Homo sapiens: one gene and its partner. The protein of the gene in region 2 interacts with the protein of the main gene of each other region in a pairwise test. Each region holds a gene or a part of one and is shown on either strand. Other genes may lie near its edges.

Evidence for each region.
Region 1: the proteins of ZCCHC7 (region 2) and CARD9 interact in binary tests that used the Homo sapiens proteins (3 or more experiments, as listed by UniProt).

What each region holds. Positions count from the first base shown.
Region 1 is NC_000009.12:136,363,357-136,367,169, forward strand, and holds the end of CARD9 (caspase recruitment domain-containing protein 9), read right to left. Parts: intron 3,490-3,813; coding exon 3,444-3,489; intron 1,862-3,443; coding exon 1,785-1,861; intron 1,204-1,784; coding exon 1,127-1,203; intron 1,046-1,126; coding exon 946-1,045; 3' UTR 807-945; coding exon of another isoform or gene 769-806; 3' UTR 600-768; downstream 1-599. Other genes in the region: DNLZ (DNL-type zinc finger protein), read right to left, coding at 131-358. UniProt on the Homo sapiens protein: Adapter protein that plays a key role in innate immune response against fungi by forming signaling complexes downstream of C-type lectin receptors.
Region 2 is NC_000009.12:37,305,308-37,309,120, reverse strand, and holds part of ZCCHC7 (zinc finger CCHC domain-containing protein 7), read right to left. Parts: intron 3,578-3,813; coding exon 3,407-3,577; intron 1-3,406.

The DNA of each region.
Region 1 (3,813 bases), about 99 Mb from region 2:
AGGGGTGGCTCCACTCCTTCCTGTGACTTGACCACGCCGCCTCCCGGATCCCCGGCGGGCCGCTTCTCCCCGCAGGCCGTGTAGCGTCAGATACGGGTCTGTCCCCGGTTCCGTCCCGCCGCGCGCCTACCTTGCAGGTGTAGACGAGCTGGTAGTGCGCCGCCTCCACGCGCCCCAGAGCCGCCGCGGGCCCCGGCCCCTGCTCGGAGCTTGAGCGCCGCCAGCCCCAGGCCCAGGCCCGCCGCCTCCCCGCGACCTCTGGACGGGCCCCGCGGCCCCACAGCCGCCTCAGGCAGGGCGCCCGGGGCTGCACGCGACTCAGCAACCTCGGCGCGCCGCGCAGCGCAGTCCGCAGCATCCCGCTCGCCGGCTCCGTCCGCCCTGCCCCGGCCCCGCCCCGCCGCCATCTTGGAAGTGGGCGCCGGGCGGAAGCGGCGTTCTTGGGCTTCCGTCTTCCGGGTCGGGGGCGCGCTGCGCTATGCCGCCCCCTGGCGGCCTGAGGGGGCCCTGCGTCCACGTGCAGCTCGCACCCCGAGGACACCGCGGGCCGCAGCGAGGAGGGACGGCCGCGGGGCTGCGCGCGAGTGTCCGAGCGGGAATGCGGGTCACCCGTGCTGTTTATTTACGCAGCTGTGTTTTCTAACACTAATACAATGCATGCATGTATTGTGTGTTACATGGTGAAACAGAACAGATCCTGAAGTTACACAGATGGCGTGTGCATGGGGGTGGTGAGCACCCGCATGGCCTCCGCAAAATGAGTGCCGCTTAACAAACGGCCCCAATGCCCGGCAGTCCGGCTGGGCCTTTCAGGGCACCAGATTCCTCGTTCCAGGCCAAGTCAGCGACGGCTCGGGGAAGTCTGCGCCCCAGGGCGTCGGCACCCCCGGGTGGCAGGAGGCCGGGCCGGTGGGTGTGCCCTGGTCGGGGCCTGCGCTGCTGCGGCTAGGAGCCCTCAGTGTCGGTGTTGTCGCTGCCCGTGGTGTTCTCCCGGTCCTCCTCCCCCTGCCGCCATCCTTTCTGCATCTTCCTGAGGGCGCGCTTCCTGTGAAGACAGGTGTCTCAGGCGCGACCCGGCTGCCGCTCCCCAGCCCGTTTTGGAGAAGCCTGGGGGCCGCCCGCCTACCTGCGGTAGTTCTCAAAACTCTCTTTGAGGCGCCGCCGCTCCTTCTCGGGCGGCTCCCCGCTGCTCAGGCCTGCGTCCTGGAGAAGGGGGAAGGCTCGGGCTCCGGCCGGCTCCCCTGAGGGAACCCGTCCTTCTCACCCGCCCCCCACTGGCCCCTGTAACTGCAGACTGGTTGGGAGGCGAGGAGCCCAGACAGCCTCAGCTCAGCGCCAAGCTCTCCCTGTGGGACCTGCCTGTACCCCTGGAGGTGAGCCGGTGTGGGTAGCCTGCATTTCAGATGCCAAGACACACCCAGGAGGCCAAGCCACGGCTCCAGCCTGGGGTCCGGGCCATTGTTTCTACAACAAAGCCCGAGGTGGTGCTTGCTCTCAGGACTCCTGTGTTCACCTCCTCATCCACTGTAAAGGCCCTCGGAAAACCAGGACCAGGCACATCCACGTCCAAAAAGCCCCCCAAGCTGCTGCAGTGCCCAAGAAAGGGGGATCCACTTCGCAGCCCAGACACCGCACCCCGAGCACTGTGGGCAGAGACCTTGTGGTCACTCCTCAGCTGTCGTCGGGGCCACCGCAGGGGGTGCCCAGGGCAGGGAGCCACTCTCCCTGTGATCGGTCACCCTGAGGCCCACGGCTGGGAGGACCCCACCCCGGGGAAGCCTTACATGGGGGTTCCGCAAAACCTGCTCCTGGTGCAGAGCTGCAAAGGGCTGTTTCGGGCTCCCCCCGCCGGCAAGGCAGCCTGGAAAGGAGAGTCGTGCCTGTGGGACCTGCCCATCTGCTGGGCCACGTATAGCACGGCTGCCCCACCCCTCCCCGGCATTGCAGTGGGGCTGTCTTCCAAGGCCTGGTGGGATCCCCACATGGGTCCAGTGTAGACTCTGCTTTCTGTAGATGAGACTGAGGCCTTATGGCCTCGCTTGCCTGTTCATTGCTCCAGGAGGCCGCCAGATGCCAGCCCAGGCCCAACGCTCCCGCCAGTGACCATCCCTCCCCCGAGCTGGCTGCCTGCCAGGGAGGAACGCCTCCCAGACCTCGGGGGAACTTAAACCCTGGGCCTGAGCAGCACCGTCCCCCATCACTCCAAAGCATCTGTGGGCATGGCGGCCCTGGGGAGAGAGTTGGGGACAGCTACAGTGGCTGTCTGGGTCCTCCTGAAGTGGGGGCAGGGGTACTGCAGCAATTGGGAGAGAACCTTCAGGCGGCTGGACCCCCTCAGAAACCGCCAGGACCTGGGCAGACCAGGGATCAGGACCCTTGGGCAGAAACCACGCACGTCCAGTCTCAGCCCCACTGCGGTGAGGGCCAGGCCAGGGCTGTCCTGGCCATTGGCAGCCCCTTAGAGCCAGCCCCTCCCCTGCTCACCCTCCAACCTTCACACCTGCCCCTGCTCCTGCCACAGCCACCCAGGGGGATGGGGGCAGTGCCTGAGCCGGACTCCTGGGTCCTGCTCGCCTCTGTGCCTACATGGGGGCTTGGCATCCCCATGTTCAAGTGTTCTGAGCTGCAGCCAAAGGCGCTGGTCTTCACTTCCCCGTCTGCGGCTCCTCCTTCCCCTTCCGCCTCTGCTTGGAGGCCACGGCCTGGTACTCAGGAAGCTTGTCCAACTCCGGTGCAGCCTCCCAGGACCCCTCTGCTGGGCCCTCCCCAACCCCTACCTGACAGCACCTTCAGTGCAAACACCTACCTCATCACCACTGCCCACTCCTGGACACTCGGGAGCTGCTCCCAGCTAGCCACCCAGTCCTTCCCCCAGACAGGCAGAGGGGGCCTGCCCTGCCCGCTAGAAGCCCCTGCCACTGCCTTACCCCCACTGCACCGGGACACAGCAGGCCCTTGGCCACCCCTGCATTCAGCCCTTTCCCTCAAGCCACGTGGGGCCCCATCTCGCCCCATCTTCTAGCTTCATGCACCTGGTCGTTCGCTCGTTACCACCTCCCTCTGTCCAGGAGGAAGCTTGGAGCAGCCAGGACTGGGCCTGCTCACCTCTGCACCCCGTGGGGGCTGCCCAGAGGGGCCCCACACTCTCAGGACGGTGGGCCTGCTCACCTCTGCAGCCCATGGGGGCTGCCCAGACCCCCACACTCTCCACCCCAGGGGACACTTGTCCCACTAGCTGGGGCCCTGGGTTCCAGCTGGGCTCTGTAGTTTGTTCTCTAGGTGACCTTGACCATTTTACTTATCCCCAGCCCCAGTTTCCCTGTCTGTGGAGTGGGGGTTGTGGGGGTTGACACAGGCATTGCGGCACGGGCTGCCTGTGCTGAAGATGGGCCTCACTTGGGGAAGCTGGGAGGCCTCTGGGTGTACTGCTGTCCCCACCTCACCTTTGTCTGAGAGCTGGGTGTCCTCCAGGTCCTGGGGGAGTGAGAGCTTCCAAAGAGAGTCAAGATGTCCCATTAGGCCACTTCGCCAAGGACTGGACCCGGCCACACTGCCCACCCCAGCCCTTGGCCCTCAGCTGGGTGCAGCCATTGCCGTCACCCCCTGCACAGAGCTTCTCAGAGACTCAGGTGCCCAGCAGACGGACATTGGGCGGCCAGGAGGTGGGCACTGTCCGTGCCTTACCTTACCCCTTGAGCCATCAGAGGCCTTAGCATTTGGCCACCTGCTCTTCCTCCACCCAGCCCAGCCCACCGAGCAGGGCCATGTGACGGGCAGTGTGGGGCTATGCCTGGTGGCAGCTCAGCCAGGACC
Region 2 (3,813 bases):
AACAAATATAGTAGATACTGGTAGATTTGGGGAAAAGAGTACTGCCTTCTCTGAAGCTGGTCACAGCCCAACCCTATTTTATTTTATTTTTTGAGATAGGCTCTCACTATGTTGCCCAGGCTGTTTTTTTTTTTTTTTTTGGATACAGACTTTCACTCTGTTGCCAGGCTGGAGTGCAGTGGCATGATCTTGGCTCACTGCAACCTCTGCCTCCCAGGTTCAAGCGATTCTCCTGCTTCAGCCTCCTGAGTAGCTGGGACTACAGGTGTGTACCACCACGCCCAGCTAATTTTTGTATTTTTAGTAAAGACTGGGTTTCACACCATGCTGGCCAGGATGGTCTCGATCTCTTGACCTCGTGATCCACCTGCCTCGGCCTCCCAAAGTGCTAGGATTACAAGTGTGAGCCACCAGGTTTTAAACTCCTGGGATTAAGAGATCCTCCTGCATTAGCCTCCTGAGCAGCTGATATTACAGGAGCATACCATGATTTTAATCTTATTTAAAAAAACCTACATTCATTGGGATTATTAATTCTCATTTTAGATAATAATTTAACATATATTAGAGGCCAAAATCAAGAAGTTAAGAGGAATGGCCTATAGAATTAACACAGATGATTATATAACCTTTTACAAGTAATTTTTAACTGTTCTGTAGTACAGTTTCTTGTTTTTAAAAAATTGCCTATGATAATGTCTTACTCCCCTTCTTTATCACAGGCAAATAAGACCATATTTGTCAGAGCTCTTTGGAAGAAAACAGTAAAAAAAAAACAGATGCTATTAAAGATAACTGCCAAACTAGAAAATCTTGCTAAGAAAATTATAATTGACAACTTAATGCAGACAACAACATAATGCTAGGACAATTCAGGATTTATCATTTTTAAGACTTGGTAAACACTAAAAAATAAGACTAAAGTACTTTGGAATGAAATGACAACTTCTATCTATATAGCCTTGAGAATAGAGTATTCAAATTAATTAACCATATACCACTTTATTAATAACCAAAGAAATACAAATTAAAACAATAAAATATCATTTTTTGGTCTGACCAGCCAAAAATTTTAAAGACTGATAATACTTAATGTTGATGAGTGCAGTGCTCATTTCTCTTAACACTGCTGGTAGGTAGATACATTGGTACAATCTTTTAGAAGAGCAATTTGACAATACTTATCCAGACATAAGTGTACGTCTTTTAATTTCACAATTCCATTTATAAAATATGACTTACCAAAACATTATTAAATGCACCACTGTTTGTTTAAAAAATGGGTAACAATTTAAGTATAAATTTGCTGGTGGAATTACAATAAATAATTGTCATGTTATTTACATGAGAAATACATATATATACCAAACACTCATACTCTAATCTGTTTTAATCTGAAATTCATTTCAACAGAAAGCCATACTAATTTATTGAGCAAAAGATTATAGGTGTATTTCAGACATGCATTAAAAAGGGCTGTAAGAAAAAAGACTATAGGTGTATTTCAATATAAATAAAATTAGAAAAATATTTCTGCTTTCGTATCATGACTTTGGGGAAGTACATATTAAAGTACTTTTATTATTTTAAAAAATAGGTAAGTAATGCTTTAAAAAAGAGAATGAGAGACACCCCTTTCATAAATACCCCTTAAATCAATTAGAATTGCCACTTAGGTATGAGGATGAAAAATGACTTTGTACTGATTAGCTGTTAATATAAAATAAACATATGTTACTATGTAGTAAGAAACGCAATTAAGACCTAAAATGAAAGACTCTTAATGAGACACTCATTAGGAATTAGGGTAAACTGAATGTAGAAAACTACATATTCCACATCAAAGCTGTATTTGCTTATTTCAACAGCCCTCTGGTCTTTGAAATTATGACTAAACTCCATATACATTTACAACAATACAATGCAAATAGTGTCCAAAACAGCATTTTTAATATGCTGCAATTTAAAGTAATGGCTGCCTTGTCCTTCTTTCCTTAGACTATTAGACCAGCAAAATCATTGATAAGAAGAATCAGGCCAGGTGTGGTGGCTCACACCTGTAATCCTAGCACTTTGGGAGGCTGAAATGGGTGGATCACCTGAGGTCAGGAGTTCGAGACCAGCTTGACCATGGTGAAACCCTGCTGTCTACTAAATATACAAAAATTAGCCAGGCATGGTGGTGGGCGCCTGTAATCCCAGCTACTTGGGAGGCTGAGGCAGGAGAATCACTTGAACCTGGGAGGCAGAGGTTGCAGTGAGCCAAGATCATGCCACTGCACTCTAGCCACCGTGACAGAGCGAGACCCTGTCTCCAAAAAAAAAAAAAAAAAAAAAAAAAAAAAAAAAAAAAAAAAAGGTCGGGTACAGTGGCTCATGCCTGTAATCCCAGCACTTTGGGAGGCCGAGGCGGGCGGATCATGAGGTCAGGAGATCGAGACCATCCTGGCCAACGTGGTGAAACCCCGTATCTACTAAAAATAAAAAATTAGCCAGGTGTGGTGGCACGTGCCTGTAATCCCAGCTACTCGGGAGGCTGAGGCAGGAGAATCGCTTGAACCCAGGAGTTGGAGGTTGCAGTTAGCTGAGATCACGCCACTGCACTCCAGCCTGGGCAACAGAGCGAGACTCCATCTCAAAAAATAAATAAATAAAATAAAAATAAAAAAAGAAGCATCAAAATAGGCTTCCATTAAACATCTGTATATAACTGCTAATTGTGCATATATTTTCATTTAAATATGCACAAATAGGCCAGGTGCAGTGGCTCACGCCTGCAATCCCAGCACTTTAGGAGGCTGAGGCGGGCAGATCACCTAAGGTCAGGAGTTCGAGACCAGCATGGCCAACATGGTGAAACCCCCGTCTCTACTAAAAATACAAAAATTAGCCAGGAGTGTTGGCATGCTCCTGTAGCCCCAGCTACTCGGGAGGCTGAGGCAGGAGAATCGCTGGAACCCGGGAGGCAGAAGTTGCAATGAGCCGAGATTGCACCACCGCACTCCAGCCTGGGTGACAGAGTGAGACTATGTCTCAAAAAATAAATAAATAAATAAATAAATATGAATACACAAATTTTACATGTTATTTATTACCTCTTTAAATTCAGCCTTTATTTAACAAGCTTATAAAGAAAAAGGGCTAGAATGGGCTTAAAATATTTATTAATGCTATCTCTTGATGCTGTCTTCTGATTCAGTAGGCTCCTTACCCCTATATTATTTAGAGCACTGCTTTATATACATGTTCAGTGACAAAATGGACATGACTATATATATATATATATATCTCACGGAGTAAACATTCCTTTAGGTATGCTGACTGATAGTTATAAACTTGCACATTAATTACAAACTTGCACACTCCCTCCAAAGCCTGACAAATTAGTTATATGCAGGATACTCACATCTGTATAGTGGCCTAGCATATGACATCGGTCACACTGTTTATCCCAGGAATGTCTGAAAAGACATGAGTGGTCCAACATCTTAGGCACAGGACAGTATTCGCAAAGGGGGGCTGGACAGGAATACAGGAGATGTCCTCTCCTGGAGCACAGGAAGCAGCGACGAACTTTCTATGTGGCGAAAAAAACATAAAATCTCTTCAGTCTCAAAAGGTAGAAGATTAGTATTTGTTTTTCAATATAATCCCATAAAAAAATCTTTTCTAATTTGAGATCCCAATAAAGGTAGAATCCTGAGCACAACTGTAAAAATCAAACAAAATGTCCAAAACACTGTATGTATATTGTTTGCCAAAAAGGCTTAGTCTGTACATACTAGCAGCTGGCATATATTCCTTATGCCTCTT